7 linked regions of the Homo sapiens genome follow. The protein of the gene in region 1 purifies or fractionates together with the protein of each later gene. This does not show direct contact. Each region holds a gene or a part of one and is shown in the gene's direction. Other genes may lie near its edges. The genes, in order: BSPRY, KLHL23, ANKRD17, BTBD9, USP4, RAB11B and MSLN.

Region 1 (2,591 bases):
TTTTTCATTTCCACCCCTTTGGGGCCATGAGTTTTGTCTTCGGTACCATAGGGCAGCTAGCCCGGGTGGTTCGCTGTAGACTTCACTATGTTCAGCCTCACATTTGCCCTGGGATGACAGCTTAGCACCGCTGACATCAGCTCCTCTTTCTTCCCCACCTGTTGGCGGGAGCTCCTGCGTTCTGAGAAGATGGCAATAGACCCTCTGTTGTCCTGACCACAAAGAGCCTTTGTTACTAGAGCTTGCTCCCAGCATTTCTAAGGTTCTGTTCACCTTATACCTCCCAAGACAGAACAGTGACAGTCTTGCAAAGAGCCATCAGGGCACATGCCCCACCCCTGTGCCCACTCCATTTATGCACAGAGCCATGAGATATGGGGAGAGAGTGTGTGTACTCGGAACCACTGCCTGATCTCAACGCCATCTTCAGGATTGGAGGCAGTAGGAAAGGTCTTTCTCAGCACCTAGGTCAAAAGGCTGCAAAGCTCCATGGTAAACCCCTACTTTGCCCTATATTCCTTTGAGATTTCACTTCAGGTCAAGGAAAAAATTATGTTGAATGCTGCCTGGGCTTCATCCCAGTTTTGTTCTATTTTTGCATGGAGGCATGACTTGAATCTAGCTCCCCTTTTTAGCTCTGAATCTGTTCTGTCCTGTTAAATCAGATAACCACTACCTCCCAGGTTATAGCAAAGTTGAGGTATGATTCTGTAGAGAAAACAGCAAACCCAGGCCCTCACTGCTGATACATGGCAGTTTTCAACTCCTAGGCATCATATTGTCCCAAAATACCTCTCCAGCAAAACCCAGCCCCCATTGTGAGCTGAGGGGAGAGTTATTGAGAGCACACAGTGCCATGATTCATTTGTGGCTGGGGTGATAACTGATGGCCCTTTCCTCTGTGGACCCCTCAGGTGTTTGCATTTTTAAAGTAGAGGAGTGGCTGTACCTTCTGACAAAACCCAGGGAAACATGACTGCCCCAACAGGTCTGAGAGGGAGGTGAGATATTTTCCAGGCAAGGGCAAGATGTTGGAGTAGAAAGACTATCGTGCAGGGGTTCCAGAGGCCCAGGAGGTCTTAGCCCCAGCTCTGCCATTAACTTACTGAGGGACTCTGGCAAGTTGCTTCCTCTGCAGAGCACACCACCTTCAATTTCTAATACTGGCACCAAGAACACATCTTCCTATAAACTGTCCACCAGCTTTGCTAAAATTAAGGCTTCTGGGGGGCACAGGGGAAATGGCCACCTTCCCTTTTGGCCCAAGCACCTGTGTGGGGCCTGGATGCCACTCTTTTTTTTTTTTTTGAGACAGGGTCTCACTCTGTCACCCAGGCTGGAGTGCAGTGGCATGATCTTGGCTCACTGCAGCCTCGAACTCCTGGGCTTAAGCAATCTTCCCACCTCAGCCTCCCAGGTAGCTGGGACTACAGGTGCATGCCACCACACCCAGCTAATTTTTAAATTTTTTGTAGAGATGGAGTCTTATTATGTTGCCCATGCTGGTCTCAAACTCCTGGGCTCAAGTGATCCTCTCCCACATCAGGCCTTCCAAAGTGCTAGGGTCACAGGGGTGAGCCACTGCACCTGGCCCTAGCTGCCAATCTTGGTATCGCCTGATAGGAGATTTTACTTCTGTTCTTCTCTTCACCCCATATTGATCCAGATATATTTCCAGAACCATCCTGAATCTCTGTCTCTGTTTTTCCCCATATAAGGACCGAAGAAGCAGAGGGCATTTTGGATCCCCAGGAGTCGGAAATGTTAAACTTTAATGAGAAGTGCACTCGGAGCCCACTACTGACCCAACTCTGGGCAACGGCGGTTCTTGGGTCTCTCTCAGGTTAGGAGCAGTAGAGCCCAGGACCATTAGGACAACTGGGCTTCTGTCTGTCTGTCTGGGGTTCACTCCTGGTTCACAATGGGGACCCGTGCTTCTGAGATGATAGCTTAAACAAGTCATGCTGGATGCAGGCTGGTCAGTAGGGTCAAGGTTCCAGACAGGCCTGGGGCAGCTGGGCCAAGTCCTTCCCATTTCCGGACTAACATGTTCTGTGGTTGGGTCAAAGATAAATCTCATTCCTATAAGTCATGTCTTCCTTATATCCTGACCTACTAGGGCAGCCCAGTATTATTTATTGGAAACCTGGGGTTTCTCTTTAAGAAGATAAAATTGATGGCCAACTGAAGAACATCTGGACCAAGAATCAAACTGCCTGATTTGCCTCACTTATTCACTTTACACACACTGACTCAGGCCAACTGTGGGCCCCACCCTGTGCCACATGCTGGGGCCACAGAGGTAAACTGACATGGTCTTCTGCCTCCAGGAATTCCCATTTAGCACAGAGGTTCTCCAGAGCAGGCCTCCTCCAAGTTAGATGGAAGCTTCCATTCTCCCAATGGTAGTCTTTCACAATTCGTGGAACAGTTAGGTTAATAGACTGATTTTTTTTTTTTTTCAGTTTTAATCCTCCCTCCTCGTATTATCCTTACAATTTTGGTAGAAGCTGTAGCTTCTCTACTCTAGATTCTGGTATCAAATGATGCCTGATTTACCAGCAGTTTAGATATTTGCTAGAAATTGCTTA
Region 2 (3,500 bases), on another chromosome or scaffold:
ATTTATTCATTGGTGCTGAGGAGTTGTACAAAAACAACTGGTAGGTCGTTACCAAATTTGTATCATTTTGTCCCAAATGTTTCTTCCCAGGCTTTTCTGTTTCTTTTTTAATGCTAGTGAGAGTGTGGGAATTTGACCTGGTCTGGAAATCTGACCTGGTATGATCCTTGGATGACAGGCAGGAAGCTGAGAGGCAGAACAGTCTTGGGATCAGGCACGCTGCCTCTGAAGCTAAACTGCCTGCATCCAGATCCCTGCTTTCCTCTTACTTGCTGATGAGCTCTGGCAAATTGTTTAATCACCCTGTGCCCCCGTTTTGTCATCTGTATAATGGGGATGACAATATTACCTAGTCTCGGATCATTGAGAGGATTAAATTAATCTATGCTTGTGAAGTGCCTAGAACAGTGTCTGACACAGAGTAAGCATGCTATAAATGTTACGCATGATTGTCCTGAATGTCGGTATTGAAGGACATGTCAGCTCTTATAGAGCAGAAATTGATTTCATGTGAAGTTGTGACCACTGTCACACCAGGGTGGGAGAAGGTAGCAGAAAGCCCGGTGCTGTTGCTCCCCTGGTTTTTGTCTTTGCCTGAGTCTCACCACTACTTGCCGATTCCAGGAGGGCTCTGAATGTCCTGACCCCTCTTCTGCAAAAGAAATAAGAAAAGTCCATATATTTAAGGAGCTATTGTAAACTAGCATACATTTCTGATTCTGTTTTTTAAGGATGATATAACAGTTTCAATGGTTTTGTGGTTCAGAGTATATTTCTTTTTCTTTTTCTTTTTTTTTTTTTGAGATGGAGTCTCACTCTGTCTCCCAGGCTGGAATGCAGTGGCGTGATCTTGGCTCACTGCAACCTCTGCCTCCCGGGTTCAAGCAGTTCTCCTGCCTCAGCCTCCTGAGTAGCTGGGATTACAGGCATGTGCCACCACACCTAGGTAATTTTTGTATTTTTAGTAGAGACGGGGTTTCACCATGTTGGCCAGGCTGGTCTTGAACTCCTGACCTCAAGTGATCCCCCCACCTTGGCCTCCCAAAGTGCTGGGATTACAAGGGTGGGTTCAGAGTATATTTCTTTGAGAATGAAAGCTTATTACTTTACTGAAATTTTAAAAATTTATATTTAGAACAGTGCTTGTTGAAAAAAGATATGCTGCGATGGTGTATCTACTGTGAAACAAAAGCCATATGCATGCTTGCGTTAACCTTGAGTGGAGTAGGAGACCCTCATACCTCAAAGTCCTCCCTCACCTGCTAACTGGGTCTGAAATTCCAGTTTTATACTTTGAACTCAAAGCTTTGATTCTTGTTTATATCTAGTCATCCCAGGGAGAGGTAACACTGCCAGTTATGTGCAGTTTTGACTACTGCTTGTTTTGGTGGGTGGACTCATACAGAACTTTTTTTAAACAATTTTTAAAATTTTATTTTTAATTTTTAAAACTAGAAATGGCGGGGGGTCTCACTATGTTGCCCAGGCTGGTCTTGAACCCCTGGCCTCAAATGATTCTCCTACCTTGGCCTCCCAAAGTGCGGGGATTATAGGTGTGAACCACCACACCCAGCCATACTGAACTTTTAGATTCCCATTTTTTGGTAGAAAGGATAACATTTTTTTCAATTCGTTTTATTTTGTAGCCTTGAAGTGAAATAGCAGCTTTCTCTGGTAATAAACTTAATTTGGGTACAGTCAAATTTAAAATTTATTACCTTTTTTTGGTCCTGGACCCAAATTAAGTTCACTAATGTACAGAGAATAAATAAATACTTGGCTGTTTAGGAACTCCTGAATCTTTATTTTTTTCCATCATAACTGCTCTACTTATAAATCCACTTTTATTTTGGAATAGAAAGGAACAAGAAGATTGAACTGTATCATGCAAAATGGTGCTAGGTAAAAGTTAGTGGAAAGACAAAACCAACGTTTTCAACTAAAATGATCCTCATCATCTTTCTTCCTTTCTTCATCTTCCCTCCAAACCTATTTCCTCCCCCTCCTCCCCCTCCCCTTCCTCACCCTCCCCTCTCTTCCCCCTTCCCCTCCCTCTCCTCCCTATCTCCCTTTCATGTTTCGCCTATCTTCCTCTTTCTTCCTCCTCCTTCCCTCTCCTCCCCCTCCTCCCTCTCCTCCCCCTTCCCCTCCCCCTCCCCCTCCTCCCCTTCCCCTCCCCCATCTCCTCTCCCTCCTTCTGCCTTCTTCTTCCTCCTCCTCCTTCCCCTCCCTCTCCTTCCCCTCCTCGACTTCCCCCACCCCTCCTTGTTTTGGCATCAGTGATTCCAGTTTTTCCAGCTCAGGACCTCAAAATCGGTTTGGTTTGCCTCTGCGTCAGTCAGTCATCAAGACCTGTGTGTTTTACCTGTCTCTTTCCTCTATGCTCTTCCCTCCATACCCAAAGCCCCTTCAAAATCAGGCCCTCGAGACCGCCCACCCTGGCCAGTAACTAGATCTTTCTGGTACCTGTTCTTCCTTTGTTAGTTGCTCTATTCCTCTGTTTAAAAACCTTTAAAATCTGGCTGAATTAAATCCAGATTCTTTGTTGGGCATCAGTAAGTATCCTTTGCTACATGGCTTCAACTTACCATGCCAGCCTTAAAGTCCCATGCAACAACCCTCAATGTGCCACCTGCCCTGGTCAAACTGGGCTACTTAACATTGTCCAGTAAGCCTTTGCACTGGCTTTTCCCTCTGTCTAGAATGGCCTCCTCTCATCTATACTTGCCAACTTCCTACCATCACCCAGGTCAAATTCCACCACCACCTGCTGTGATTTCCCTCGTCAAATGCAGTGTTTTCTTGCCCTGACCATGCCCAGCAGTTCATCTGTCCCTTTTTTCATGGTGTTTCTTCCATTTTATATCTAGTGTTCTAATTACAGCCATGTGCCACTTAACAATGGGGATATGTTCTGAGAAATGTGTGATTAGGCAATTTTGTCATGTGAACGTTATACTTAAACAACAGGCTATACCATACTAATTCTACAGCCTAATACACACCTAGGCTGTGTGGTATAGCCTGTTACTCCTAGGCTTCAGACCTGTACAGCATGTTACTATACTGAATATTCTAAGCAGTATAACACAATGGTAAGTCTTTGTGTATCTAAACATAGAAACAGTACAGTAAAAATACAGCATAAAAGATAAAAATGGTAGACCTATTTGGGGCACTTACCATGAATGGAGCTTGCAGGACTGGAAGTTGTTCTGGTTGAGTCGGTGAGTAAGTGGGGAGGGATTGTGAAGGCCTAGGACATTACTGTACACTACTGTAGACTTTTTACTTTTTTTGAGACAGGGTCTTGCTCTGACACGTACGCTGGACTGCGGTGATGTAAACATAGCTCACTGCAGCCTTGACCTCCTGAGATCAAGCAATCCTCCCACCTCAGCCTCCCGAGTAGCTGGGACTACAGGCACATGCTATCACACGTGGCTACTTTTTTATTTTTTGTAGAGATGTGGTCTCACTTTGTAGTCCAAGCTGGTCTC
Region 3 (3,500 bases), on another chromosome or scaffold:
TGTTGTTATTTTGCTCTACTTTGGTTCTAGAAGGATACAGGAAATAAAAGGGAAACCAGAGTGAACACAGAGGTTAAGGTAGGCTCCCAGGGATGAACCTAGGGGAAAGCAGGATTCATTTGTTTATCCTTCTTTCCTTCCTGCCTGCCTGCCCTGACTATGTCTTGATGTTAGTTGTTCTGGGTTGATTTTTCCTAGAGGTTTAGGTGTGGCCTTTCAATATGTAGGTTTTTAAAAAACAAGCTTTTGTTATTTATCTTTGTGTTTACATTTACATGTCTGTGTATTCCTTGTAGTTTTTGTCTGTTTTCTACTGCATGTATAATTGCAGAATTTGGTTTTATTTGGTCTTTAGCTAAAATATTCTTTTACTTCTAACACTTTCCTGAGTTTTGTCATATTGTTTCCGTTTTACTAATTCTGAATTATGCTGTTCCTTCATATCATTTTCTTTTCGTTCATTTTTGAATTTTAGGTTATAGCTTTTTTTCTGGAGTGCTTTTATTGTCAACAGGAATGCTATAGGTCTTTCTCTTTTATCTTATATAATAGGCTTATTTGGAATTCAACTGCAGTTCTGTTGAATCTGCAGGTAACAGTTTTGATTTTTAAGCTTCAGACTCCTTTATTATTTATACCATTTTAGTTTAAATGTGCTTTAATATTTAAGCTTTTTTGGGAGGGGGAGGGGGGATGGAGTCATCTTGCTCTGTCACCCAGGCTGGAGTGCAGTGACACGATCTCGGCTCACTGCATCCTCCGCCTCCCGGGTTCAAGTGATTCGTCTGCCTCAGCCTCCTGAGTAGCTGGGACTACAGGCGCGTGCCACCACGCCCGGCTAATTTTTGTATTTTTAGTAGAGACAGGGTATCACCATATTGGCCCCTCGAACTCCTGATCCCATGATCCGCCCGCCTTGGCCTCCCAAAGTGCTGTGATTACAGGTGTGTGCCACCGCGCCCGGCCAATATTTAAGCTTTTCACATAAAATATAATTTTGGTTATTTTTGTTTTTTCTCAATAATGTATAGAGATTGAATCACTAATGAATAGTCTCAAATCAAGAAATCCACCTTGTTTGCATAAGTAAAAAAGATTCTCATTACCAAAAGCATGTTCTGTGAAGTACTCACAAGATAAAATAAAACAGACTTAGGCAATGATCCTCTTATTGGTATTTTATCAGTATATATAATGTTCTATAAACTTCAGTTCTAATTTGAAGAAACTTTTTTTTTTTAAACTGGACATGATGGCTCATCCCAGTAGTCCCAGCTGTTCAGGAGGTTGGGGTGGGAGGATCGCTTGAGCCCAAGAGTTTGAGGCTGCAGTGAGTTATGATCGAGCCTCTGCACTCTAGCCTGGACAATGGAGCAAGACTCTGTCTCCAAAAATACATAAATAAAATAAATAAAAAATGAATAAATAACAAAGAAACGTATTTCTTTTTCCTAGGCTAGGTTTTCCAAATTTATTAGATAGCTGAATCTCTTTTTCATCATAACACAAAGAGCAAGTATTCCCAGGGAATACAGTTTGGAGATTGCCACTACAGGCAGTGATTCTTACCCATCTCCATTCTGTTGTTGTTGGTTTGTTTTTTAATTTAAATGTCTTATTGCTTGCTACATTTTACTTAATGTCAAGGGTTAATTCATTTGAATATTATTTAATTTAATGGTTTATTACCTTTGTAGTTGAACATTTTGCAGCATTGACATCATATTCTACCTTGAAGTCATGGAACTTTAGCCAAATTTTAATATGCATCATTTTTAAGTATTATTTTTACACTTTGTTTTTCTGAGAATATATATTTAAAACATCTCCTGGTTTTAAGATTTGGTTTTATAAAATTACATGTTCTATAGATGACCTGTATTTTATTTCAAAATATCTCTTCTCTAGATTCTTCTGCACAGTCAGTATCCTCGGGAGTTCGTGCACCATCTCCTGCCCCATCATCAGTACCGTTAGGGTCAGAAAAGCCCAGCAATGTGTCTCAGGACAGGAAAGTTCCAGTCCCTATTGGGACTGAACGTTCTGCACGTATCAGGCAAACTGGAACGTCAGCTCCATCTGTTATTGGGAGCAATTTGTCTACATCAGTAGGACATAGTGGCATCTGGTCCTTTGAAGGGATTGGTGGCAATCAAGGTAGGATATTCTGTCCTGCTCTCTAGAAATTAACTTAATGCATTTAACTATAATGTAAACAGTATTTAACTTTAATAGTCATTTCCTTTTTTTTTTTCTTTTTTTGAGATGGAGTTTCACTTGTTGCTCAGGCTGGAGTGCAATGGGGTGATCTTGGTTCACTGCAACCTCCACCTCCCCGGTTCAAGCGATTCTCCTGCCACAGCCTCCCAAGTAGCTGGGATTACAGGCATGCGCCACCATGCCCAGCTAATTTTTTTTTTTTGAGACGGAGTCTCGCTCTGTAACCCAGGCCGGACTGCAGCGGCACAATCTCTGCTCACTGCAAGCTCCGCCTCCCGGGTTCATGCCATTCTCCTGCCTCATCCTCCCAAGTAGCTGAGACTACAGGCGCCCGCCACCACGCCCGGCTAATTTTTGTATTTTTAGTAGAGACGGGGTTTCACCGTGTTAGCCAGGATGGTCACGATCTCCTGACCTTGTGATCCGCCCGCCTCGGTCTCCCAAAGTGCTGGGATTACAGGCGTGAGCCACTGTGCCCCGCCTGTATTTTTAGTAGAGACAGGGTTTCACCATGTTGATCAGGCTGGTATCAAACTCCTGACTTCAAGTGACTCACCCACCTCAGCCTCCCAAAGTGCTGGCATTACAGGCATGAGCCACCACGCCCAGCCTCGTAGTCATTTCTAAAAGATCTGTATTCCTATTTTTTTTGTTATGTGAATATTTAATCACTTCTTTATGAGCTCTGTCCCCATGTGACCTTTCTCATTACATGTATTTATTACTGCTTTCAGAAAATATCTAATGCAAGCATGTTCTTTTCTTCCTTTCATCATATTAAGGACATAATAATATTTCCTTTCAGTCCCTTTAGGTTGTACTTAGGTTTTTTTCTTTTGTTTTATAACACCAAGTTTTTAGATTATTTCATTAAGCTATTATGTCACTACTTACAAACCATGGAAATATTGCTGTAAATATATAAAAGTAGGTCATTATATTGAAATAATTTACGGTTCAATGTGGAAAATATTAGAAAAACAAAATATTTGATTTTGATTTTAAATATTATCTATTTTTGTTTTGCCTCTTTGTTTGCCCTCAGACAAAGTAGACTGGTGTAACCCTGGGATGGGAAATCCTATGATCCACAGACCGATGTCTGACCCAGGAGTATTTTCACAACATCAAGCAATGGAGCGAGATAGTACAGGAATTGTAACTCCTTCTGGTACATTCCATCAGCATGTTCCTGCAGGCTACATGGACTTTCCTAAAGTTGGGGTAAAGTCCTGATTTTGTACTAGTTATTTAAGGGAGGATTTTCTGAGAAAATGTTT
Region 4 (3,500 bases), on another chromosome or scaffold:
GAGGGCTGAACTCATCTCAAGAACCCATTCCTGAGATAATGAACCCATTCCTGCTATAATGGCATTCATCCATTCATGAGGGCCTAATCACTTCTTATTGCATGGGGGAAGTGATGAGGCAGGAAGCTGTTTTTGGAGCCAAATTATGAGGGGGTCTTCCACTTCATCCTAAAAAGTCTAGACTCCTCCCATCCATTGGCAGTGGAGAGCCATAGAAGGTAGAATAATCAGAAAGTTGACAGTTCGTGTGCAGATTGCATTAGAGTAGAGAGGCAGGGAGACTAGAGTGTAGGTGAGAAATGTTGGACAATGGGAATGGATAGATTTTGGAGACATTTTTAGATGTTAAAATCTCTACATTTATGACCAGCTAGAGGTAAGGGAGAGTGAGAAGTCAAAGATAATATGTCTAGTTTGAGCAACTGTTTGCTTATGATGACATTAAGTTAGAAATCACAGGAAGAGGAACAGGTTTGAAGTGGAGAGAAGAAATAATGGCAGTGTTAATTCTGAGGTTTCTGTGGGGAGTTTAAAAAGAGAGATCCACTAAGTAACTGGAAATGCTACTTCAGAGTTTATGAGATGGTTAGGGACAATTGTAATATAGATGTCCGCTGAGGCTGTGGGAGTAGCAACCTTCTAGGAGGCATGTTAGTATAGTAGTTAACTTAGTGGACTTTGGAGTTAGGAAGATGGCAGGTCAAATCTCTGTTATGCTGTTTATTGGTTGGCTGACCTTTGGCAAGTTATTTAACTTCTCTAAGCCTAGGCTTCTTATCTGAATTAAAGAATTGTGGAGATTATACATGTGCACAGTGATTAACACAAAGGTACTATGTGCACAGTGATTAACACAATGCCTGTCTTATAGATGCTTAATATAATAAATGGCAGCTGTTGCTGTTATTGTTAGTAGTAGTTATAGATGTAGAGATAGTAGGAGAGGCCCCAATGCCAGAAAAATGGAGAGTGAGAACTGGAAAAGATGGTGAATGGAACTTTTGGACGTTTAAATCAGTATTTAAACTTGGATCAGTTCTTGTCTTTGTTTTGTGCTGCTATTTCATATTTTATGTTTCATAATGGCAGCACAAAACAAACTAAGACAAGAACTGATCTAAGTTTAATTTATAAAGAACAGTCTGGTTAATTTATAAAGAACAGAAATTTATTTCCTGATAGTTCTGGAGGCTAGGAAGTCCCAGATCAATGTGCCAGTATCTGGTGAGGGCCTTCTTGCTGTGTCATAACATGGCAGAAGGCATCACATGGGTGAGAGAGAGAGGGAAGGGGGCTGAACTGATCATGTCAACCTATTCCCACTCTACTGGCATTAATTCATTCATGAGAAAAGAGTCTTCATGGCCTAATCACTAAAGATCCCACCACTCACTGCTGTTGCATTGGGGAATCATGTCTCCTCTAACACATGGAGGACACATGCAAACCATAGTAGTTCTAAAATTTGAAAATGCATTGGGTAGACCTGGAGGTGGCCAGGTGTGGTGGCTCATGCCTGTAACTCCAGCACTTTGGGAGGCTGAGGTGGGTGGATCACTTGAGGTCAGGAGTTTGAGACTAGCCTGGCCAACATGGTGAAACCCTATCTCTACTAAAAATATAAAAATTAGCTGGGTGGGGTGGTGCACACCTGTAATCCCAGCTACTCAGGAGGTTAAGGCAAGAGAATCGCTTGAACCCAGGAGGTGGACATTGCAGTGAGCCGAGATTAGGCCACTGCACTCCGGCCTAGGTGACAGAGCGAGACTCCATCTCAAAAAAGAAAAAAAAAAAGAAATAGCTGGAGGCTTTGGTAAAGCACAGATTTCTGGGTCCCACCCCCATAGTTTCTGATTAAGTAGGTGTGGACTGGGGCTTGAAAAATTGCATTTTTGAACAAGTTCCCAGGTGATGCTGATGGTGCTGTTAGAGGATAGATGAAAGAAAAGGAACCAGCACTAACAAAGTGGTTGAAGTGTATGGAGAACCAGGAGATAGTTTAGAGAAGAATAAGAATTTTAACAGCCTCCAGACTCTCTAGGTCTACCAGTCTGATTTCCAATTTCGTAGAGCTTATCTCATTCTTATTTTTGTTTTCTCCAGAATCTATTATAATGCCTGATACATAGCAATAACCTTTGAAGCTGCTTAATACTGTCCTGGTGCATGATGGCATGTACCTCACACACAGATTTCATTTATCCTCTTTTATCTCTGATGAGTCATGGGGAGGATATGATTTCTAATTTTACACACACACAAAATAACTACAGAAAATTTCTTTCATATATCTGGTGTGTAGCTATGTGCATTTGACTTTGTGTTAGATGCCCTCTCCCCCCCCTTTTTTTTTAAAAAAAAGGAACAATCCAGTTTGCAAAATAATTTTTAATAATATGTGCCAGGATTCCAGTCTGTGTCCTGTATTAGGCACATTGAGTCTTAAAAGGGAAGCAAATAATATATTCCCTGTTCCTGGGAAGTTTACAGATAAGATGGGTGAAATGAGCAAAACCCACAGGAAAGAAACAGGAAGAGGTATAATCACAGAAACATGGATGTAGAGAATCTGAATCTAAGGACATATTCTTTGCTTGCCAATATTCTTTGGGTTTTACATGTTTCATATACTGAAGACTTTTGGCATATAGCACACATGTTAGTCCTAGTGAGAGGAAGTTATAAGGGAGTTCCACTATATAAGGAAATAAAACAGTAGCTGTGCAAAATTATAAACACATTTGTAAAGGGAGTGAAATTGGAGTTAAATTGGAGCTTCATGACTGACAGCTTAGCTACTCACTATTCTGCCTAGGTGCTTGTTCTCTCTCATTTATCTCCCAGCTAACATTCATTAAGCATTTATAGTGTGCCAGAAATCGTGTGAAGTGCTGGGCATAGAGAAAACAATAATTGCCTTGTGCACCTAATTCTGGTTTTACTTGGGGAAAGGAATGTGCACACATGTATGCATATTGTCAGGGTGAAGGAGCCTGACTTTTATAATCTTAAGATTATATTGAAGGAAGAGACATTGAGGACTTGAAGTTAAATTCATTCAGCCTTATGTATTCAAGGGGCCATGACGAGTATAGGGATGGGGCCATGACGCGTATAGAGATGTATATTTTTTTTTTAGCAATCAAATTTGTAATTTGATAGAGGAGAAAGAACATATTTGGAGTAATAAAAAGAATACGATAAGTACTGTATAAATATTGATTACAGACTAGGTACTCTGGCTTCTTAAGCAGCTAAGTGTTCAGTTTTAACAGCAACTCATAAGCTATTGTAATGTTTCAGAAATTATAACATGTCATAAGTCCACATTAACCTCCTGGGCTGCCTTTGCATCTGAATATGAGACACAAAAATATTCTGGCAGTCTGTGTCCCTATTTTCTTGATTTGGGAAGTATATGCATAATGCATATAAGCAAAAGAGTAATTAAAAACAAGGTGCTATTTATCTAATGGCTACATTATGCAAGGCCCTTTCTA
Region 5 (3,500 bases), on another chromosome or scaffold:
CTCAGAAGAAGAAGAAGACCACAGTGGCCCTGAGAGACTGCATCGAGCTCTTCACCACCATGGAGACCCTTGGGGAGCATGACCCCTGGTACGCAGCTCCTCACTGTCTGGGCAGAGGCCCCATGCACCCCAGGACTCAGATCTGCTAGGGCCATCTGTGCACATAAACCCCTTTGTATTTGGATGTGTCACTTCTTTATATAGCTAACCCTACAACATAATCCTCTGTGAGTTGAGGTTTCCAAGGAAAGCCGTCACCCCATTTTGGAAGACAGGTCCCTGGCCAGAAGCAGTAGTGTTGAGTGCTGACCGAGAGGATGGCAGCTATCAGGGGACTGCAGCTGTGCCTCCATGCATGAGTGCCCAGGTGGCACTGGCTGCCGGCTTGCCCTGCTAAGTGGAGGTTTCTCTTTTTAGGTACTGTCCCAACTGTAAGAAGCATCAACAGGCCACAAAAAAGTTTGACCTATGGTCCTTGCCCAAGATCCTGGTGGTCCACCTCAAACGTTTCTCCTACAACAGATACTGGAGGGATAAGCTCGACACAGTCGTAGAATTCCCAATCAGGTGGGTCATGGTGACTACAGTGTTAGGAACATTTAAAAACAGGCAGAAAATCTTGGCACTGATTGGCTGAGTGGTTTGCCACCAAAAACTTTTCTGAGTAAGGATGTGTGTTGCCGGGGTCTAGGAGGTCAGAGTTTAGCTGTAGTTACCCCTTCTGTCCCTATCCTCCCATCTTTGGGGAAGAGACTCTCCAGTGGAAGCATTTGCCCAGACACAGGCTGCTGCCAGTCACCCCTGCCACTGCTAGTTTCCCTCTCGAGTCACTTAGGCCACCTAACTGGCCTTCCTGTCCATCATCTGTCACAGGTAGCCTCACCTTAGCAGAGGCAGCACAACAGGGGACAAGGCAACCAAGAATAGCCTGTCAGGTAGAGTTGGGTTATTATTGGGGGCTGCAGGTGGGCTGCACACCTGCCATGATCCTGTCCCTGGGGTAGGGATTGGGACTGGCTGTCTACTCATATCCTCTCAAGCCCCACAGTACAGACTGTAACTAAGAACAGGAAAGTAAGTTAACAGATAGATGTTCCCTGGCTGGGCACAGTGGCTCACATATCATCAATTTGGGAGGCCAAGGTGGGAGGATCACTTGAGCCTAGGAGTTCAAAACCAGCCTGGACAACATAGAGAGACTTCCTCTCTACAAAAAATAAAAAATATATTTAAAAAAATAGGCTGGGCACGGTGGCTCATGCTTGTAATCCCAGCACTTTGGGAGGCCAAGGTGGGCAGATCACAAGGTCTGGAGATCGAGACCATCCTGGCCAACATGGTGAAACCCCATCTCTACTAAAAATGCAAAAGTTAGCTGGATGTGGTGGCGCACACCTGTGGTCCCAGCTACTCAGGAGGCTGAGGCAGGAAAATCGCCTGAACCTAGGAGGCAAAAGTTGCAGTGAGCCAAGATTGCACCACTGCACTCCAGCCTGGTGACAGAGCGAGACTCTATCTCAAAAAAAAAAAAAAAAAAAAAAAAAAGAGGCCGGCACAGTGGCTCACACCTGTAATCCCAGCACTGTGGGAGGCCAAGGTGGGTGGATCACTTGAGATCAGGAGCCGGAGAGTAGCCTGGCCAACATGGTGAAATCCTGTCTCCAGTAAAACTACAAAAATTAGCTGGATGTGGTGGTGCACGCCTGTAATCCCAGCTACTAGGGAGGCTGAGGCAGGAGAATTGCTTGAACCCACTAGGCGGAGGTTGCAGTGAGCCAAGATTGTGCCACTGCACTCCAGCCTCAGCAACAGAGCAAGCCCCTGTTTCCAAAAAAAGAAAAAAAAAAGGGAGTTGCCCACAAAATGTAGATTTTAAAATGCTTTCTGGGGGAAAGAATAGATACATGAAGTATAGCATGTCAGCAGGAGACGCCAGGTGATGGATAATAAGTATTTGTTGTAAAAATTCTTTATCTTGGCTGGGCGCAGTGGCTCACACCTGTAATCCCAGCACTTTGGGAGGCTGAGGTGGGCAAATTACGAGGTCAGGAGTTTGAGACCAGCCTGACCAACATGGTGAAACCCCATCTCTACTAAAAGTACAAAACAAAATTAGCTAGGCATGGTGGCGCATGCCTGTAATCCCTGCTACTTGGGAGGCTGAGGCAGGAGAATCACTTGAACCCAAGAGGCAGAGGTTGCAGTGAGTCAAGATCGCGCCACTGCACTCCAGCCCGGACGACACAGCGAGACTCCGTCTCAAAAAAAAAAAAATTCTTTATCTTTTCTGTGTGTTTGAAAATTTTTAAATAAAATATTGGAGGAAGAAAGCTTTCTGGGGCCTGTTTTGGTTGAGTTTAAATTATTATGGCACCAACTGTAATTCTGTTAAGAACAGCCATTTCTGCATACTTGCTGAAGCCCTCTGTGTGTATCTCTAGACCCTCATCACCATTTTGTCTGGTGCTGGAGTTACCCAGAAAGGTTCTCCCATTTTCTTTTGTTGTTGTTGTTGTTTTTTTTGTTTTGTTTTTGTTTTTTTTTGAGACCGTGTCTCACTCTGTCGCCAGGCCAGAGTGCAGTGGTGCGATCTCGGCTCACTACAACCTCTGCCTCCTGGGTTCAAGCAATTCTCCTGCCTCAGCCTCCTGAGTAGCTGGGACTACAGGCGCCTGCCACCATACCCAGCTAATTTTTGTATTTTTAGTAGAGACGGGGTTTTACCATGTTGGCCAGGATGGTCTCAAACTCCTGACCTCATGATCCACCCACCTTGGCCTCCCAAAGTGCTGGGATTACAGGCATGAGCCACTGTGCCCGGCCTTTTTTTTTTTTTTTTGAGACGGAGTTACGCTCTTGTTGCCCAGGCTGAAGTGCAATGGCACGATCTCGGCTCACTGCAAACTCTGCCTCCCAGGATCAATCGATTCTCCTACCTCAGCCTCCCAAGTAGCTAGGATTACAGGTGTGTGCCACCATGCCCGGCTAATTTGTGTGTGTGTGTATATATAAATGTATATATGTGTGTGTGTGTGTGTGTGTGTGTGTGTGTGTGTGTGTGTATATATATATATATACACATACTTTTTTTCTTTTTTGAGACGGAGTCTCGCTCTGTTGCCCAGGCTGGACTGCAGTAGTGCGATCTTGGCTCACTGCAAGCTCCACCTCCCGGGTTCACGCCATTCTCCTGCCTCAGCCTCCCGAGTAGCTGGGACTACAGGCGCCCACCACCACGCCCAGCTAATTTTTGTATTTTTTAGTAGAGACAGGGTTTCACCGTGTTAGCCAGGATGGTCTCAATCTTCTGATCTCGTGATCCGCCTGCCTTGGCCTCCGAAAGTGCTGGGATTACAGGTGTGAGCCACCGTGCGCGGCCTAATTTTTGTATTTTTAGCAGAGACGGGATTTCACCATGTTGGTCGGGCTCGTCTCGAACTCCTGATCTCAGGTGATCCACCTGCCTTGGCCCCCCAAAGTGCTGGGATTACAGGCATGAG
Region 6 (2,287 bases), on another chromosome or scaffold:
TTCCCTCCTCACTGGTGCCCACACCTGGTCCCACACGCCTCCTGTCCTCCCACCTGGGCCTGGCCTCCATTCCCTGCAAAGGCTTCCCAGCCATCAGGACCCACTCAGCTGCCTTTTTCTGGACCCCTCCCAAGCCCCCCAGCCATTCCCACCACCGTCTTGAGATCCTCTGGGCTCCCTCCCATCTCCTTCATCCCTCAGGTACATCTGTCTCTCTGTCACCTCCTCTTGTTTTTTTTTTTTTGAGATGGAGTTTCACTCTTGTCGCCCAGGCTGGAGTGCGATGGCACGATCTCGGCTCACTGCAACCTCCGCCTCCTGGGTTCAAGCGATTCTCCTGCCTCAGCCTCCCAAGTAGCTGGGATTATAGGCACATGCCGCCATACCAGGCTAATTTTGTATTTTTAGTAGAGATGGGGTTTCTCCACATTGGTCAGGCTGGTCTCAAACTCCCGCCCTCAGGTGATCCACCCTCTCGGCTTCCCAAAGTGCTGAGATTACAGGTGGCGTGAGCCACCGTGCCTGGCTGTCGCCTCCTCTTTTTTGGAGACAGACAGGGTCTTGCTCTGTCGCCCAGGCTGGAGTGCAGTGCCACAATTGCAGCTCACTGCCCCCTTGACCTCCCAGGCTCAAGCGATTCTCCTGCCTCAGCCTCCTGAGTAGCTGGGGCTACAGGCCTGTGCCACCATGCCTGGCTAATTTAATTAATTAATTTATTTATTTTTTAGTTTTAGTTTTTGAGACAGAGTCTCACTCTGTCGCCCAGGCTGGAGTGCAGTGGCGCAGTCTCAGCTCACTGCAAGCTCTGCCTCCCAGGTTCACGCCATTCTCCTGCCTCAGCCTCCTGAGCAGCTGGGACTACAGGCGCCCACCACCACGCCTGGCTAATTTTTTGTATTTTTAGTAGAGATGGGGTTTCACCGCATTAGCCAGGATGGTCTCGATCTCCTGACCTCATGATCTGCCCGCCTCGGCCTCCCAAAGTGCTGGGATTACAGGCGTGAGCGACCCTGCCTGGCCTATTTATTTATTTTTTTGAGATAGAGTCTCACTCTGTCATCCAGACTGAAGTGCAGTGTCACAATCTCGGCTCACTGCAACCTCCGCCCCCCGCCCCCCAGGGTTCAAGCAATTCTCCTGCCTTAGCCTCCCGAGTAGCTGGGATTACAGGCGCCTGCCACCACGCCTGGCTAATTTTTGTATTTTTAGTAGAGATGGGGTTTCACCATCTTGGCCAGGCTGATCTTGAATTCCTGACCTCGTGATCCACCTGCCTCGGCTTCCCAAAGTGCTGGGATTACAGGCATGAGCCACGACCCCCGGCCAATTTTTGTGTTTTTCTAGTAGAGATGGGGTATCGCCATGTTGCCCAGGCTGGTCTGAAACTCCCAGCCTCAAGTGATCCACCCGCCTCAGCCTCCCAAAGTGCTGGGATTACAGGCATGAGCCACCATGCCCAGCCCCTTCTTCCCTTTTTTTGATGACCTCACGGTATCTTCTATTTCCAGCTCCCAAACTCCCTCCTCAGACCCCCACATTTCAGAGCTGGATCCAGGGAGCAGCGCTGGGGCCTCCAGACACACACCCTTCCCTTGAGGCCACAATGACTGCCCCTTGGCTCGGCCCTGGACGACCCACCCTGGGCGTGATGTGTGCTGTTATCCCGTGAGGCTGCCGCTGCCCATGGTTGTCCTCCAGAGAGGCTCATGGGCCCCTGACCCTGCAGGTACTACCGTGGTGCAGTGGGCGCCCTGCTGGTGTACGACATCGCCAAGCACCTGACCTATGAGAACGTGGAGCGCTGGCTGAAGGAGCTGCGGGACCACGCAGACAGCAACATCGTCATCATGCTGGTGGGCAACAAGAGTGACCTGCGCCACCTGCGGGCTGTGCCCACTGACGAGGCCCGCGCCTTCGCAGGTGAGCAGACGGAGACGCAGGCATCAGAGAGGTGTCTGGAAGGCAGGAGGCCCCTCACAGTGTTGGGGCCCTGGCCACAGCCCTGGCTTCCCTTCCCTGAGGAGTGGCCTTGGGATGGGCCAGGTGGGTGGGCGGGGTCCCTGAGAGCATGTGGGAGCCTGTCACCCTGCCTCCCCACTCACCTAGGCAGTATTCTTTGTTCCAGAAAAGAACAACTTGTCCTTCATCGAGACCTCAGCCTTGGATTCCACTAACGTAGAGGAAGCATTCAAGAACATCCTCACAGGTGGCCGGGGACCAGATGGGTGTGGGTAGGGCACCAGCCAGGCAGGGTGGAACACGGCCTCTGAACCTTCGCTTGTTTTGT
Region 7 (4,102 bases), on another chromosome or scaffold:
CCTGGACCCTCCTCGGCTCCTTCAGTTCAGGGCTCAGCTGGGCACGTGGGCGCCTCCTTGGCTCCTCCGGCTCAGGCCTCTCCTCGAGCTCTGGGCCCTGAGTATTCTGGGCTCCTTCCTTGGTTTCCTTTGGCCTTTGGCCGGGAAAGTTGTGGGTGTCCGTGGCAGCCTGGGCCACTTCACAGCCCCGCAGCCAACCTGCGGCTCCTTCAGAGCAAAGCTGTGTGGACACAAAGGGAACGCCACTCGGAGCTGGCCTCTCCCTTTACCTGTGAGTTCCCGCCCAAGCCGGCTGCCTTCTGTCCCCTCCCCAGAGCCCTTGGGTAACTGGTTTGCTACAAGAGTGTCTGGAATTTTTCAGTTGTTCTCTGCGGAAGGGAGTTTTTAAAAGGCCCTTAATCCCTTCTTGACATTTGTAAGTTGACGCTTACACCTGGCAGCCTTGCTGAATTCTGTGTGCGTGAAGGTCCGATTCCACCGCGAGTCACGATAGAAAACCCACTCTGTGGAGAGACCAGAGATGACCGCCGCGCACACCTCCGTTCAGCACACAAACCTTTGCAGGTGTTCATAGCGGAGGCAGATTCCGTACTGGGGATAAGAGCTCACGACATGCTGGGAGGGGTTTCAGGGGCAGGGAGGGGGCTTCTGTGGCCCCAGGTCAGGAGGAGCAGCTCTTCCATCAGCAGCAGGCAGCCAGCCCAGATGCGTAGGGAAGACAGCTCCCACTTCGCCAGGCCAGAGAGCGCCCGGGGGCAGCTCTGTTCCAGTCGACCCTGCGAGAAAGGGGTGTGCGTGTGCCTGGAGCTGGGCCCCGTCCTGCCTCCCTGACCTGTGTGCTCCCACAGCCCTGAGACGGACGGCTCACAGCCTTGCGAGGCCCACACTGCACTGGGGGTCAGGCTTGTGCTCCCGGGAGTCCTGTCTGGGCTGCGTGGCCACCATCCAGAGCCTGCTGACCTGCGACTGGGGGGGCCAGTGCTCCCTGGGTTTCAGCACCTGAGAATCAGAGTGGGATCCCGTGAAACCTGGGCCCAGGCTCCCACCCACGCCCCACACCCACCCAGGGAAGCCATGAAACCTGGGCCCGGGCTCCTACACATGCCCCACACCCACCCAGGGCAGCCGTGAAACCTGGGCCCGGGCTCCCACCCTCGCCCACCGAGGGCAGCTTTGCCTTCCTGGGCATCCCTCCTCCCCCAGGCCTGGCCCGCTGCCTGTCCAAGGCTCCTGTGCGGGGTCTCCACCCACACATTCCTGGGGCGTGAGGCGCCACCACTCCCTGCTGCCCCGGGCAAAGCCGTCATTTGTTCCCTTTGACGGCCCGGGAGGCTGCCAGGCTCTCCACCCCCACTTCCCAATTGAGGAAACCGAGGCAGAGGAGGCTCAGGTGTGGCCAATCACCCTGCACATCAGAGTTACCCTGGGCAGGGCCCACTGAGACCTGGGAGGGGCCACTCGGGACCTGGAGGGCTGGGGGCTGCCCGGGCGTTAGGGGTAAAGCTCCCTACCCAACTGCGCAGAAGGCCTCAGAGGCCTGGGGGCTGGGCTTCCCCTTTCACATCGCCCTTTAGAGGCCCACGTGTGGGCATTGGCCCGCGATCTGAAAGGGGCTGTCCTGTTCCTCATGGGCGCTGCCAGCGCCACGCACTCCTCTTTCTGCCTGGCCGGCCACTCCCGTCTGCTGTGACGCGCGGACAGAGAGCTACCGGTGGACCCACGGTGCCTCCCTCCCTGGGATCTGTAAGTAACAACCTTTGAGCTCTTCCTGTTGTGGTGTGGATGGAATCTGCACCTTCCATCTGGAGAACTGGGGCCGCCCCAGGCCGGGCTTCCAGCACCAGAGCGATGGTCAGGCTTCAGCTGGACGCAGATTTCACCCCGCAGGGCACACGCAGACCCATTTGTTTGGAAGCGGCAGTCCTAAGGCAGTGCAGGTGCCTCCACGGCCCCAGCCCAGCTCTCCTGCAGGTGTAAAGGATGCAGATTCCAGGGCCCCCCATGGCCTGCAGAGGCCCCTCAGAGCAGGAAGGGCCGGGCTCTCGGGGAGCCCCCATCCCAGGTGCTGAGGTCCTTGGGTCACATGGAGCTGGGGTGGGGAGTGCCCAGGTCCCCTGTGATCCGATGGCCACGTTTCCCTCCTGGCTTCACGCACCCCAAGGGCTGGGGGTCCCACTCACTGCCCATTTTCTGGCTGTGGGGGGGGTCTGTTTTCTTCCACCTTCTCAAGGTGTTCAGAGCCTCAGGGGCCTCCCCACTTCCTCTGGGGCCTGGGGGAGTAGAGTCTGTCACCCGGAGGCTGTGTGCCTCCCCGCGACATTCCCCAGTGGCCGGGCCGACCAGGCAGGCTCTGCCTGTGGATGGGGCTGCTGAGCATGAGCGTGTGACCCCCATTTCTGAGCTGTGGGTGGACCCACCGGGCCTGGGCCAAGGTTTTCAGGAGGCAGCTCTATTCTACTCCGCCATGGTGGCCTCCCTGAAAGGGGTGAGTGTAGAAGCCAGTTCCCTCTTCTGCGAGCCCCACCCCTACCCCAGGAGGACAATTCTTGTTCAGGGAGGGTCTCCCCACCCACTTCCCCACCCCACAGTGGCCCACAGGCCCCACCCTAGAGAGTACAAGGGGCTCCCCAGGCTGCTCACTGGCCCAGCCCCGCCCCACCTGGACTGCACCTGAAAATGGGCTCAGAGAGGCCAAGTGGCCCAAAAAGACGCTGCTGGGTGGGAAGGGGCGGTGGCCTCTGTGCCCGCAGTGCCCCTCCTGCCTCAAGGGTGTTGTCTGCCTGGCAGAGCCTGGGGTGTTCACAAAGCCCAGGCACCTGCAGCTGAGGGCAGGGGAGAGGGAAGGGAGCCACATCCAGGCGACGGGGCTGCTCGTCCTCCTGTGCGAGAGTGGGGAGACTCAGGCCAGCCCAAGTGGGCGGCGGCCCCGGTTGCTTGATCTAAGCTCTGCTCACACTGCCCTGCCCTTCTGGGAGAGGGGTGGGCGCCAACTGACTCCTGGGCTGTCTGGGCTGGGGACCGGGATCTCAGACCCAGCCCCTCCCCTGGACAGGAGGAGCCAGTCCAGGGGACAGAGGGCTCAGTGGCTGGAGGGCAGGGCCAGGGTGCGGACACAAGCTGCAGGTACCACAGAAGTTTGCTCTGGGAGCCCCTCCTGGGCCCATGTGGCCCCAGGCTGGCCCAGGACAGAGGCGTGGGGTGGGAGCAGGGGGTCCCATCCTGAGTCACTGCCCTCCACAGACACAGACCATGGCCTTGCCAACGGCTCGACCCCTGTTGGGGTCCTGTGGGACCCCCGCCCTCGGCAGCCTCCTGTTCCTGCTCTTCAGCCTCGGTGCGTACTTGATGGGGCTGCTGGTGAGGTGGGGACGGCCCAGGGGCCTTGGGGGCCAGGCCCCCAGCAAGGCTTTGCCTGCCCCTGCCTTCTCCCTGGAGTGCCTGTGGTGGCCACGTCTCAGCAGCAGTCTCTGCCCCCAGAGGTGACTGGAGCTGGAGATCCAGCCAGGGAGTGATGGGGCTCAGGACACAGTGGGGATGTCTGTGGGATGGGTGGTCTGACCGGCCAAGCAGCCGGGTCTCAGGGAAAGATGTGGAAGGCCGGGCTCCCTGGTGGAGTCCCGACCCCTGTGCCTGGGGGACTGTGATGTCACGGGGTACATGGGCCTGAGCCACTGGCTTCTCTTTGGGGTGTGCACAGGGCTGGCTGTGGGGGCGGCCAGGCTCTGCCTCCTTCCTCCCCTGGGTCAGGGCACAGCCCAGAGGCCCGCCCCCTCCCCCAAGCTGTCCCCTCTGCCCCTTTAGGATGGGTGCAGCCCTCGAGGACCCTGGCTGGAGAGACAGGGCAGGTAAGGTCCCCTCTGGGGAAACAGGGGAGGGTCTTCAGGTCCCAGGTGGGGGTGCCATGCTGTGTTCTCTCTGTCACGTATCCACGGTGCTTGCCAGTTTCCACGGTCCTTGCTTGCAAAGGGGCACCTGGACCTGCATGTGACTGGCCTGGGAGCAGCCAGGTCCAGGGAGCGGCAGAGCTGAAATTGCAGCTGGGTCTGGGAAGTAGATGGATGAGAAGCAGCCAAGCCCATGGGTCTGAGACACAGCCAGGCCT

Evidence for each region.
Region 2: the proteins of BSPRY (region 1) and KLHL23 purify together in Homo sapiens (affinity purification with mass spectrometry; one large-scale study listed by BioGRID and IntAct). This does not show direct contact.
Region 3: the proteins of BSPRY (region 1) and ANKRD17 purify together in Homo sapiens (affinity purification with mass spectrometry; one large-scale study listed by BioGRID and IntAct). This does not show direct contact.
Region 4: the proteins of BSPRY (region 1) and BTBD9 purify together in Homo sapiens (affinity purification with mass spectrometry; 2 studies listed by BioGRID and IntAct, with this or other methods). This does not show direct contact.
Region 5: the proteins of BSPRY (region 1) and USP4 purify together in Homo sapiens (affinity purification with mass spectrometry; 2 studies listed by BioGRID and IntAct, with this or other methods). This does not show direct contact.
Region 6: the proteins of BSPRY (region 1) and RAB11B purify together in Homo sapiens (affinity purification with mass spectrometry; 2 studies listed by BioGRID and IntAct, with this or other methods). This does not show direct contact.
Region 7: the proteins of BSPRY (region 1) and MSLN purify together in Homo sapiens (affinity purification with mass spectrometry; one large-scale study listed by BioGRID and IntAct). This does not show direct contact.

What each region holds. Positions count from the first base shown.
Region 1 is NC_000009.12:113,366,541-113,369,131, forward strand, and holds part of BSPRY (B box and SPRY domain-containing protein), read left to right. Parts: intron 1-1,718; coding exon 1,719-1,843; intron 1,844-2,591. UniProt on the Homo sapiens protein: May regulate epithelial calcium transport by inhibiting TRPV5 activity.
Region 2 is NC_000002.12:169,736,832-169,740,331, forward strand, and holds part of KLHL23 (kelch-like protein 23), read left to right. Parts: intron 1-3,500.
Region 3 is NC_000004.12:73,077,299-73,080,798, reverse strand, and holds part of ANKRD17 (ankyrin repeat domain-containing protein 17), read left to right. Parts: intron 1-1,908; coding exon 1,909-2,157; intron 2,158-3,265; coding exon 3,266-3,444; intron 3,445-3,500.
Region 4 is NC_000006.12:38,633,430-38,636,929, reverse strand, and holds part of BTBD9 (BTB/POZ domain-containing protein 9), read left to right. Parts: intron 1-3,500.
Region 5 is NC_000003.12:49,281,054-49,284,553, reverse strand, and holds part of USP4 (ubiquitin carboxyl-terminal hydrolase 4), read left to right. Parts: coding exon 1-88; intron 89-417; coding exon 418-567; intron 568-3,500.
Region 6 is NC_000019.10:8,400,360-8,402,646, forward strand, and holds part of RAB11B (ras-related protein Rab-11B), read left to right. Parts: intron 1-1,726; coding exon 1,727-1,920; intron 1,921-2,125; coding exon 2,126-2,206; intron 2,207-2,287. UniProt on the Homo sapiens protein: The small GTPases Rab are key regulators of intracellular membrane trafficking, from the formation of transport vesicles to their fusion with membranes.
Region 7 is NC_000016.10:759,432-763,533, forward strand, and holds the start of MSLN (mesothelin isoform 1 preproprotein), read left to right. Parts: upstream 1-1,302; 5' UTR 1,303-1,390; intron 1,391-1,641; 5' UTR 1,642-1,743; intron 1,744-3,240; 5' UTR 3,241-3,249; coding exon 3,250-3,334; intron 3,335-3,801; coding exon 3,802-3,845; intron 3,846-4,102. UniProt on the Homo sapiens protein: Membrane-anchored forms may play a role in cellular adhesion. Megakaryocyte-potentiating factor (MPF) potentiates megakaryocyte colony formation in vitro.